Linked DNA regions of Homo sapiens. The protein of the gene in region 3 interacts with the protein of the main gene of each other region in a biochemical or structural test. Each region holds a gene or a part of one and is shown on either strand. Other genes may lie near its edges.

What was found.
Region 1: the proteins of ZBTB17 (region 3) and TMPRSS11A form a complex in vitro, tested with the Homo sapiens proteins (one study listed by BioGRID).
Region 2: the proteins of ZBTB17 (region 3) and ZBTB7C form a complex in vitro, tested with the Homo sapiens proteins (one study listed by BioGRID).

Annotation. Positions count from the first base shown.
Region 1 is NC_000004.12:67,956,756-67,960,503, reverse strand, and holds part of TMPRSS11A (transmembrane protease serine 11A), read left to right. Parts: intron 1-3,748. UniProt on the Homo sapiens protein: Probable serine protease which may play a role in cellular senescence. Overexpression inhibits cell growth and induce G1 cell cycle arrest.
Region 2 is NC_000018.10:48,408,014-48,411,761, reverse strand, and holds the start of ZBTB7C (zinc finger and BTB domain-containing protein 7C), read left to right. Parts: upstream 1-2,378; 5' UTR 2,379-2,536; intron 2,537-3,002; exon of another isoform or gene 3,003-3,404; intron 3,405-3,748. UniProt on the Homo sapiens protein: May be a tumor suppressor gene.
Region 3 is NC_000001.11:15,974,589-15,978,336, reverse strand, and holds the start of ZBTB17 (zinc finger and BTB domain-containing protein 17), read left to right. Parts: upstream 1-2,235; 5' UTR 2,236-2,354; intron 2,355-3,748. UniProt on the Homo sapiens protein: Transcription factor that can function as an activator or repressor depending on its binding partners, and by targeting negative regulators of cell cycle progression.

The DNA.
Region 1 (3,748 bases), on a different chromosome or scaffold from region 3:
CAGCAATCCTATGACTTAGGTAATATTATCTCCATTTTATAGGTGAAGAAAGTAGCCCAATATCACAAGCTAGTAAGTGAAGGAGCTGGAATTTCAACCTGAAAAATAGAGCCAGAGCCTGAGTTTAACGAATAGGGTAACTTGACTTTCTTTCTTTCTTTTTAGTAATTTCTAAGAGAAGAATAACTGTTTTTTAATTTAATTTTTTTAAATTTCAACATTTATTTTCGCTATAGTGGATACATCTGCAGGTTTGTTACATAGATATATTGCACCCAGGTAGTGGGCATAGCACCCAATAGGTAGATTTTCCATCTATGCCCTCCTCCCAACCTTGCCCCTCTAGTAGTCTGCAGTGTCCATTATTCCCGTGTTTATGTCTATGTGTGCTCAATATTTATCTCCCATTTATAGGTGAGAGCATGTGGTATTTGGTTTTCTGTTCCTGCATTAGTTTGCTTAGGATTATGGCCTCCAGCTTCATCTATGTTGCTGCAAAGGACATACATTTTTTACAGCTGCATAGTATTCCATGGTGTATATGTAACACATTTTAAAAAACTGAAATCCACTATTGATGGGCACCTAGGCTGATTACATGTCTTGCTATTGTGAATAGCACAGCAATAAACATGAGTGCATGTATCTTTTTGGTATAATGATTTATTTTTCTTTGGATATATATTCAGTAATGGGATTGCTGTGTTAAATAGTTCTGTCTTAAGTTCTTTGAGAAATCTCCAAACTGCTTTCCATTGTGGCTGAACTAGTTTACATTCCCACCTACAGTGTATAAAAATTCCCTTTTCTCTGCAGCCTTGCCAGCAACTGCTGTTTTTTGACTCTTTAATAGTAGCCATTCTGATGGGTGTGAGATAGTATTTCTCTGACGATTAGTAAGGTTGAGCATTTTTTCATGTTTGTTGTCCACCTGTATGTCTTCTTTTAAGAAGTGTCTGTTCATATCTTTTGCCCACTTTTAATGGGGTTATTTGTTTTTTGTTTGTTGATTTAAGTTTTTCATGCATTCTAGGTATTAGACCTTTGTCAGATGCATGGTTTGTGACTATTTTCTCTGATTCTGTAGATTGTCTGTTTATTCGATAGTTTCTTTTGCTGTGCAGATACTCTTTAGTTTAATTAGGTCTCACTTGTCAATTTTTGTTTTGTTGCAATTGCTTTTGGAATTCTTCACCAAAAATTCTTCACCAGGGTTGATGTTAAGAAGGTTATTTCCTAGGCTTTCTATAATTTGAGTAAAATATTCACAATACTAGTCACTCCATAGTGTTCTGTCTATAGTCAATGAATTGAAATATATGTGCTTATCATTCAGATTTAAAGGCAGATTTGTAACATCCTCTTCTTGATTTGTTTTCCTTCTTTTCCAAATCTCTGCCTGTATTAATCCATTTTCATGCTGCTGATAAAGACATACCTGAGACTGCGCAATTTACAAAAGAAAGAGGTTTAATGCACTCACAGTTCCATGTGGCTGGGGAGGCCTCACAATCATGGCAGAAGGTAAAAGGCATGATTGTCTTTCTTACACAGTGGCAGACAAGAGAAGAGAGCTTCTTATAAAACCATCAGATTTTGTGAGACTTATTCATTATCACAAGAATAGCATAGGAAAGATCTGCCTTCATGATTCAATTACCTCCCATCAGATCCCTCCTACGACACATGGGAATTGTGAGAGCTACAGTTCAAGATGAGATTTGGGTGGGGACACAGCCAAACCATATCATTTTGCCCCTGGCCCCACCCAAATCTCATGTACTCACATTTTAAAACGAATCATGCCTTCCCAACAGTCATCCAAAGTCTTAACTCATTTCAGCACTAACTCTAAAGTCCACAGTCTCATCTGAGACAAGGCAGGTCCCTTCTGCCTATGAGCCTGTAAAATCAAAAGTAAGTTAGTTACTTCCTAGATACAACAGAGGGACAGGCACTGGATAAATAGACCCATTCCAAATCAGAGAAATTGGCCAAAATGAAGGGGCCAAAGGCCCCATACAAGTCTGAAATCCATCAGAGCAGTCAAATCTTAAAGCTCCAAAATGATCTCCTTTGGGTCCTTGTCTCACATGCAGGTCACACTGATGCAAAAGGTGGGTTCCCATGGCCTTGGGCAGCTCCAACCCTGTGGCTTTGCAGGGTATAGCCTCCCTCCCAGCTGCTTTCACAGGCTGGCATTGAGTGTCTATGGCTTTTCCAGGTGCATGGTGAAAGCTGTCGGTGAATCTACCATTCTGGGGTCTGGAGGACGGTGGTTCTCTTCTTACAGCTCCATTAGGCAGCACCCCAGTAGGGACTTTGTGTGGAGGCTCTGACTTGATAGTTCACTTCTGCACTTCCCTAGCAGAGGTTCTCCATGAGTGCACTGCTCTTGTACCAAACTTCTTCCTGGACTTCTAGGCATTTCCATACATCCTCTGAAATCTAGGTGGAGGTTGCCAAACCTCAATTCTTGACTTCTGTGTACCTGCAGGCTCAACCCCACATGGAAGCTGCTAAGGCTTGGGGCTTGCATCTTCTGAAGCCATGACCCAAGCTGTAGCTTGGCCTCTTTTAGTCACAGCTGGAGCAACTGGGACACAAGGCAACAAGTCCCTAGACTGCACACAGCAGAGGGACCCTGGACCTGGCCCATGAAACTATTTTTTCCTCCTAGGTCTCCAGGCCTGTGATGGGAGGAGCTGCCTTGAAGACCTCTGACATGCCCTGGAGACATTTTCCCATTGTCTTGGTGATTAACATTCAGCTCCTCATTACTTATGCAAATTTCTGCAGCCGGCTTGAATTTCTCCTCAGAAAATGGGATTTTCTGTTTTATCGCATTGTCAGGATGCAAATTTTCTGAACTTTTATGCTCTGTCTTCCTTATAAAACTGAATGCCTTAATAGCACCCAAGTAACCTTTTGGATGCTTTGCTGCTTAGAAATTTCTTTCTCCAGATACCCTAAATCATCTCTCTCAAGTTCAAAGTTCCACAAATCTCTAGGGTAGGGCAAAATGCCAACAGCCTCTTTGCTAAAACATAACAAGCGTCACTTTTGCTCTGGTTCCCAACAAGTTCCTTATCTCCATCTGAGACAATCTCAGCCTGGATTTCATGTCTAGATCACTATCAGGTTTTTGGTCAAAGCCATTTAACAAGTCTCTAGGGAGTTCCAAACTTTCCCAAATTTTCCTATCTTCTTCTCAGCCCTCCAAACTGTTCCAACCTCTGCATATTACCCAGTTCCAAAGTTGCTTCTACATGTTCAGGTATCTTTTCAGTGGCACCCCACTCTATTGGTACCAATTTACTGTATTAGTCCGTTTTCACACTGCTGATAAAGACATACCTGAGACTGGGCAATTTACAAAAGAAAGAGGTCTAATGGACTCACAGTTCCATGTGGCTGGGGAGGCCTCAAATCATGGCAGAAGATGAAAGGCATGTCTTACATAGTGGCAGACAAGAGAAGAGAGCTTGTGCAGGGAAACTCCCCCTCATAAAACCATCAGATCTCATGAGACTTATCCATTGTCATGAGAATAGCATGGGAAAGACCCACCTCCATGATTCAATTACCTCCCATTGGGTCTCTCCCACAACACAACATATGGGAATTGTGGGAGGTACAATTCAAGCTAAGATATGGGTGGGGACAGAGCCAAACTGTATCACTGCCATATAAGGAATAATAGTTGATAGATAAAAGAGAGAGGATGACAGAAATGTGTATAAAGTAC
Region 2 (3,748 bases), on a different chromosome or scaffold from region 3:
TTTACTATTAGAGTCTAATTTACTGCCCACATCCCTCTTTTCTCAACCTAAATGCCCTTTTTATGGCTGTAGCTGCCCTCACCCCCAGAACTACATTTCTATTTCCTGCAGGTGTCTGGGCATTTGCAGGGCTGGGATCCTCTAGGTGCTCTCTAAATGCATCCGCATGCTTGGCATGAGGCGCAGCCAGACTTATGGCTTAGAAGCGGGGCCATATCAGCTGGGTCAGCAGCATTCCAAGTAACTGAAAACCCTTTAATGAAGGGAAGCAAGACAGGCAACTTAATTTAACAGAGAGACAAACCTAATATGAGAGGGCAGTGGCTGCCACAGCTGCTGAAAGCGAGATATATTATTTTGCCATTCTGGAAGCTTTAGCAACTTGGAAATCTGACATCCTGAGCCTGAACATACCTTAGGTTCCACGATAGACTATCCTAGATTTACATGTGCATTTGAATAGTTTGGATAAGATGGCTGTCCAAACTGTTCATTTGGTGAAATTTACTTAGTAGGAAAAACCAGATCTCTTTGGCAAATTAAACGTGACATAATTGTACCCAAACCCTACGTTTCAGATCCCTCTATTCATATCTAGTTTTCCACTCTTACATCCTATTCCAGAGCCCGTTTTCCCTTGTTTTCACTACTCCCAACGTACTATCTTGCAATGTGCGTTTATTACACGAATGAATGAAATGGTTTAAAAAAAAATCCCAATAAGTGATATTAGGAAGAGGCACCAAAGGTTCACAAACTTATTTTTGTGAATTCTGTAAAAAATGTCATCCAGTGTCTTCAGCATTAAAGGACACAGCAGCAGCCCCACTGCCCTTTTATTAATCCGTAGCCAGAATGGGCACTAGGCGGCCGGGATTCGCCATCTCGCCTCTCCTGGGCGCCAGGTGCGCCTCAGATAAGCGCAGCCGGGTAGGAGTTTGAGGACGACAAACTTTCCCGCTTCTGAGGGAGGAGCCCCGGAGAGGACCCGCTGACGTGCGAGGGTGCTGCCTCCGATGTACTACCAAGGAGGGCGAGGGTTCCTATGTCTGTCTGGAGCGCAGAGGGGTGGACTGCAAAAAGGTAGGAGGCAAAGCCAGCTCGAGTTTCCCCGGCCCGTAGCTGGAGGGAACATCTGCCCAAGTGTCGCCTCGCCCGAGAACGCTCACGCCCTCTCCAGGGCCAGGACCCTTCCTCCTCCCCTCGCACTGGCCCTTCGTGGCTTCCAGCACCGCTGAGCACTCGGCGTCCCAGCGAGATTCTCCTGCCCCGACAGACTCCGAGGGGGCGGGGCCCGGCGGGACGGGGCGGGGACAAGCCCTCCCCGGGCCCGCCCGTTGGCATTGTTGCGCGGTGATTGGACGCTTCGGAAGGCCGCCTTCCAGGCCGACCCGGGGAGTGACGGGCGGCCAGCGGCTGCTCCCCGGCGTGTGGGGTGCGGAGTGCGGGGCCCAAGGCTCCAGAGGGGTGGGGACTCCGGGCCGCAGCGCCGCCGAGCGCGATTGCCCGCTGAGATTCGGCGCCCCGGGGTGCGGCAAGCTTGCGGTTTCAGGTGCTGGCTAGGCGTCTTGGTGCGCTCGCTGGAGTGCCGAGAGCATTTGGGAAACTTAACTTCTCGCCCCCACTCCTTGCTCCCGACTTTCGGGTAGAAAAGCAGTTGCCGAGTTGTTTTATTTCCTCCCCCATCGGACTCTGTAAAAATAGCCGTGCGCCGGGGCGGCAGAGCCCATCTCTGCCGCACCGCTGCCCCGGGTCGGCAGAGCCCATCTCTGCCGCACCGCTGCCCCGGGTCGGGTGTGGACCTAAAAATACCCGGCGGTCCCAAGCCTGCGCTGGGGGTGCGGGCGGGTCCGGCCGGGCCGCAGAGGGCGTCAGGAGACCGGAGAAACGGCGGCCGCCTGGCCCCCTCGCCTCTGCCGGGGCTGTCCCTTTAAATCCTGGAGGAGGCAGAGAGAAAAAAGGAAAGAAAGAGAAAAGACGCGGAGCCCCGAGCGGTTGGTGGCGGTGCCCGGCCCCCCCACTCCGCCTCCGCGTCGGGTCCTGACTCCCGCCCGCAGCCTCCGCCAGTCCCGGGCGCCCCCCGCCGCGCCGCCCACTCGCCACAGTTACTGTCAAAATAGAAATTAGCGGAGCCGGGCGGGGGCTGCGGCGCAGCAAGTGCATGTGCCGCGCGGCGGGGAGGGGGCGGGCGCGAGCGACAGGCGACCGCACACATCCGGGCCCTTTAGCCCTGTGCGCCCCCCGAGCCGGCGGCGCGGGCGCGGGGCGCGGGGCGCGGGGCTGACAGCCGCGGCGCGGGAGGCGGGGCGCGGGGAGGGCGGAGGCGCGGCGCGGGGAGGGAGGAGCTGCCCGCTCGCCCGCTGCCGCCGCTCAGCTCCATACCCGCCGGCGCAGCCCCGCCACGAGACTCTGACAGCGGCGCGGCCGGCGAGGCTCGGGCGCGCAGGGACCGGCGGACACCGGCGGCGAAGGAGGACGCCAGGACTGCGTCCCGGAGCCAAGTGCGGGAGGCGCGCAGGGCCGGCGGCGCGCGGAGGTGAGCGGCTTCGCGCGCCGGGCTCGGGCGCCGGCTGCCGGGGTCGCGATCTCCACAGCACCTCGGCAGCCGAGGCAGTTCGGGAGGTCGCGGGGCGGCGGGCGGGTGGCTTTGCTTGGGCTGCGCCGGAAAGCGATTGCGGGGGCCGTTGCTAGGAGGCCGGCGGTCCGCGCGCCTTGGGGCGCCGGCTGGAGCAGGGGCGCCCTCCGCGCGGTGGGCAGGAGGCGGGGGGCTGCGGTGGCTATTCAGGGGCTCCGTGCGGCAGCCATGCAACGGAGGAGGCGGGAGGAGGGAGGGAGGGAAGGAGGGAGGGGAGAGCCAGCGGAGAGCGAGCCAGCGAGCGGGCGCCGCGCCTCCTGGCTGGCACCGCGGCCCGGAGCGAAGTGGCGCGCGGGGCTGGAAAGGAACTTCTGCGGGCGCGTGCGGCCCGGGGCTCGGCGGCGCCTGCGGGCCCGAGCGGGGCGGGCCCGTCGGCAGCCACAGGTGGTTTCTGCCAAAAGTTTTACCGCACTTCTGCCTGGAAGGCGCGGGAGCGTTTTGGTGAGTGACGTTTTCCTGGGACTTTTGCAGTCTCACTTCGCGCTGTCTTTTCTTGAAAATTGGAAAATGAGCTGGAAAGGCTGGGATCCAGCACCTCTCGATGAGATCTGAGCAGAGTACAGTCCTTGCCCGAGGTGTCGCTCATGCAGGACTCAAAGATCCTTGCTGCTGTCAAGTCGGGAAGCTGGGGGAAATGGGCGCACGCACACAGTTCCTCCAAGCCTCGGACAAGTGAAGCCGAGCCTGGCCCGGTGCCTGTCGCCGCGCGGGGTAGTGCGAGGTCTGTTCCCAGCGACACGCACGGGAACTGCGTGCGTCTTCTCTCAAGGTGTGTACGTCTCTTGCTCCGTTGAAAGCGAATTGTCTCTGGCCGCTGTGCTGCTTTGTTTTTCCGGTTGCTTGTCTGGTTTTACTAGGATGAAGGCCAGGAGGAGCCAAAGAAAAGCGAAGCGGCAGCTCCCGTTATCTTTGCAATCTGCAAAGCTGTGGAGGCTGGTACCCAACCTTCCGCGGCGCGGGCGCAAGGCCGAGGGGAGCTGGGGGTGGGTGGCGTGCGCTGCCTGTATGGGAAGTCTCGCTGGACCATGCGCAAGGCTAGAGCCGGAGTTTCTGGTGCTTCTAGGACAGAAAGAGGAGTGGGAGTGGGAAGGGAAGACCCCTTAAAAGAAGATA
Region 3 (3,748 bases):
TCCCACTAGCGGGTATCTACAGAGAGGAAAATAAGTCATTATATGAAAAATACACTTCCACACGCATGTTTGTAGCAGCACAGTTCACAATTGCAAACATATAGAACCATCTCAAATGCCCATCAATGCACGAGTGGATAAAGAAAATGTGGTATATATATATAACATGGAATACTACTCAGCCATAAAAAGGAATGAAATAATGGCATTTGCAGCAACATGGATGGAGCTAGAGACCATTATTCTAAATGAAGTAACTCAGGAATGGAAAACCAAATATCATATGCTCTCACTTTTAGGTGGGAGCTAAGCTATGAGGACGCAAAGGCATAAGAATGACACAATGGACTTTGGGAACTCAGGGGGAAAGGTGGGAGGGGTGAGGGATAAAAGACTACACTTTGGGTTGGCTGGGCGCAGTGGCTCACGCCTGCAATCCCAGCACTTTGGGAGGCCGAGGCGGGCGGATCACGAGGTCAGGACATCCAGACCATCCTGGCTAACACGGTGAAACCCCGTCTCTACTAAAAATACAAAAAATTAGCCGGGCATGGTGGCGGGCGCCTGTAGTCCCAGCTACTCGGGAGGCTGAGTCAGGAGAATGGCGTGAACCTGGGAGGCGGAACTTGCAGTGAGCCCAGATGGCGCCACTGCACTCCAGCCTGGGCAACAGAGCAAGACTCCATCTCAAAAAAAAAAAAAAAAAAAAAAAAAGACTACACCTTGGGTAGAATGTACACTGTTCAGGTCATGGGTCCCCCAAAATCACAGAAATCATCACTAAAGAACTTATCCATGTAACCAAACACCATGTGTTCCCCAAAAACTACTGAAATAAAAATTAAAAATATAGTTAAAAAGAACGGGTGAAGTTAGCCAGTTGTGGGTGCACATGCCTGTAGTCTCAGCTACTGGGGAGGTTGAAATGGGATGCTTAAGCCTAGGGGTTTCAGTCCAGCCGGGCAACATAGCGAGACCCCATCTAAAAAAAAAAAAAAGAAAGAAAAGAAAGACGGCCGGGCACGGCGGCTCACGCCTGTAATCCCAGCACTTTGGGAGGCTGAGGCAGGTGGATCACGAGGTCAGAAGATCGAGACCATCCTGGCTAACATGGTGAAACCCCGTCTCTACTAAAAATACAAAAAATTAGCCAGGTGTTGTGGCGGGCGCCTGTAGTCCCAGCTACTCTGGAGGCTGAGACAGGAGAATGGCGTGAACCCGGGAGGCGGAGCTTGCAGTGAACCGAGACAGCGCCACTGCACTCCAGCCTGGAAGACAGAGTGAGACTCTGTCTCCAAAAAAAAAAAAAAAACCTAAAGACAAGAAGGGGTGAAGTCAACTGCTGGGCTTTTTTGTTTCTCTAGCCATTGTGAAGACAGGAGTGAGTTGCCAGATTGGCATATGTTGCATCCCACTGAAGGCTAGTGGACATGAATCTCTAGGGAACAGTCTCCCCACTGCATACTTTCTTCAGCTGTGCTTGGCTGTTTGGGAGCTAACAAAGAGAAAAGGTGCATTTGGATTCACACAGCGTTGGTATTCTTACCAAATCCATGTGACAAAAAGGCAAGGGGGCAAAAGAGCTTACAGTAGTGGCAAGAGTGTTGTTAAAATTATAGATTATGGAAAATATGCAGGCCTAGAAGTAAACAAAGGAGAAAGCCCTCAGACTGTGAGAAAGTGGAGAAGTCAGTGGCCTAGAGCTACCAAAAAGGTAGAAGAGGGGCCACGGAGGGGCCATGCAAGTCTGCAGACACTTTTGTTTTCAGACACCTTTATTCACGTCCAAGACAATCAGGGAAGGGGATAATGTTCGGTTTAGAAGGTAGAAAAACACAACTGGGATCTGCAGCTTTGAAGCCACAAGTAGATTCATATCTCCGGTCCACCACTTACAAGATATGTGACCATGGACATTGATTTACACTTTTTGAGTCTGTTTTCCCTTTTTTAAAATTAGGAGAATAATACTATCTTATAATTGGTGTGAGGATTTAAAGAGATAATGCATGTAAAGCGCTTAACACAGTGCCTGGCACACAGTAAGAGCTGAACACATGATGTTACTGTTATATTTGGAAGAGAAACCAAGGCAGGGGTACAATGAGGACAACTCTGAGCGCCGAAGTACTGTAAGGTGGAACTTTTGGATAGCTAGGCGCATGCGTCTGTCTATGGGCGCTCTCCTAGCGAGGACGCTGCGCATGCGCCGGAAGTTGCAGCCGGGAAGCCTGCGAGGTCGGTTCCGCCCGACTCTAACATGGCGGCGCCCTTTGTCTGCTCTGGAGTGCCGTCCCCGGCCTTCTCGCGGCCGTGATGCACCTCCCTCTGCGGTGGGGTCCGGGACATGGCAGGTGAGTGTCAACAATCGCCCGGGGCCGGGGAAGTCCCGGGAGCCGGGGCGGAGGCGGCGGAGGATGGGGCGCGGTGGGACGCCGGTGACGGTTGTGTGGGGGAGGGGAGGGAAGTGGAATGGGACGCCAACCGGGGCTGAGGGGACACCGCTGGGCGGGAGATTGTGGGGTGGCGGGGCGGGGGGCGTCGCCGGGCGTGCTGGCGGGGAGTGGGCGGCCAGGCGACCGCCCGGGCGAGGGGGCGCGTGTCACCTCCCGGGCTGGATGACACCCCAGCTGGTAGCATCTCCGCCCCCGCCGCACGGCTGTCACCGCCCCTTGACCCCGCGCGCTGTCGAGGGTGGGCGTTCTGCGGCCGCGAGGGAGCGCAGTGCCGGGGCAGCTCCTGTCGGCCGGCCGGGGCGGGAGGGAGCGGGGCTGCCCGGGCCTAGGAGGAGCTGACAGAGGAGGCCGACGCTGTCCCTGTATAAAAGCATTTCATTCATTCATTCGTACTGCGGACGGTGGTTCAGCACCTGATAGATGGTGAAGCTAGAGCGAGTGATGCGGGCGGACTCGATCCTCCAGGATCCTCGATCCTGGAGTTAGGAGTGTGAACCGTGGAGCCCAGCAGCGGGGTTTGAATCCCCATTCCCTGCTGTGACCTTAGGCACTTTTGGCTTTTTCTCTCTGCCTGGGTTTATTCATCCTTTAAGCAGAGATGATAATAAAATCAGCCTCCTAAGATTGTAATAAAGGGGAAATGAGGCTCCTAGAACACTTATGGGTACAAAGTAAATGCTGTGTGTTTGTTGCTGTTATTAATTGTATCACCATTGTCACCCAGAGCTCAGAGACCCATGTGGGAGACATACAGGTAAATCAGCAATTCTGATACTGCTGCGAGGGCAGAAAGCCCTCCTTCCTCTGAAGCACGGAGTAGAGACACATCACTCAGCCTAGGGGGAATCCCGGGAGGCTTCTGTCCCCCAGAAAGCTAAGATCTAAGGGAAGCTCAGCGGAGTGAGGCAGGAAAACGGGTATTCCCAGTTAAGGGTGTAGTTTGTGAGAAAACTCATCTTCGTAGAGAGAGGAGAGAGAGATCAGGCTAAATAAAGAAGCAGACTGGGCCGGGCTCGTTGTCTCACGCTTGTAATCTCAGCACTTTGGGAGGCCCAGGCGGGCAGATCACTTGAGGTCAGGAGTTCGAGACCAGCCTGGCCAATATGGTGAAACCCCCGTCTCTACTAAAAATACAAAAATTAGCCGGTCGTGCTTGCGCGCGCCTGTAGTCCCAGCTGCTCAGGAGGCTGAGGTATGAGAATCGCTCGAACGCAGGAGGCGGAGGTTGCAGTGAGCCGAAACGGCGCCACTGCACTCCAGCCTGGGCGACAGAGCGAGATTCCGTCTCAAAA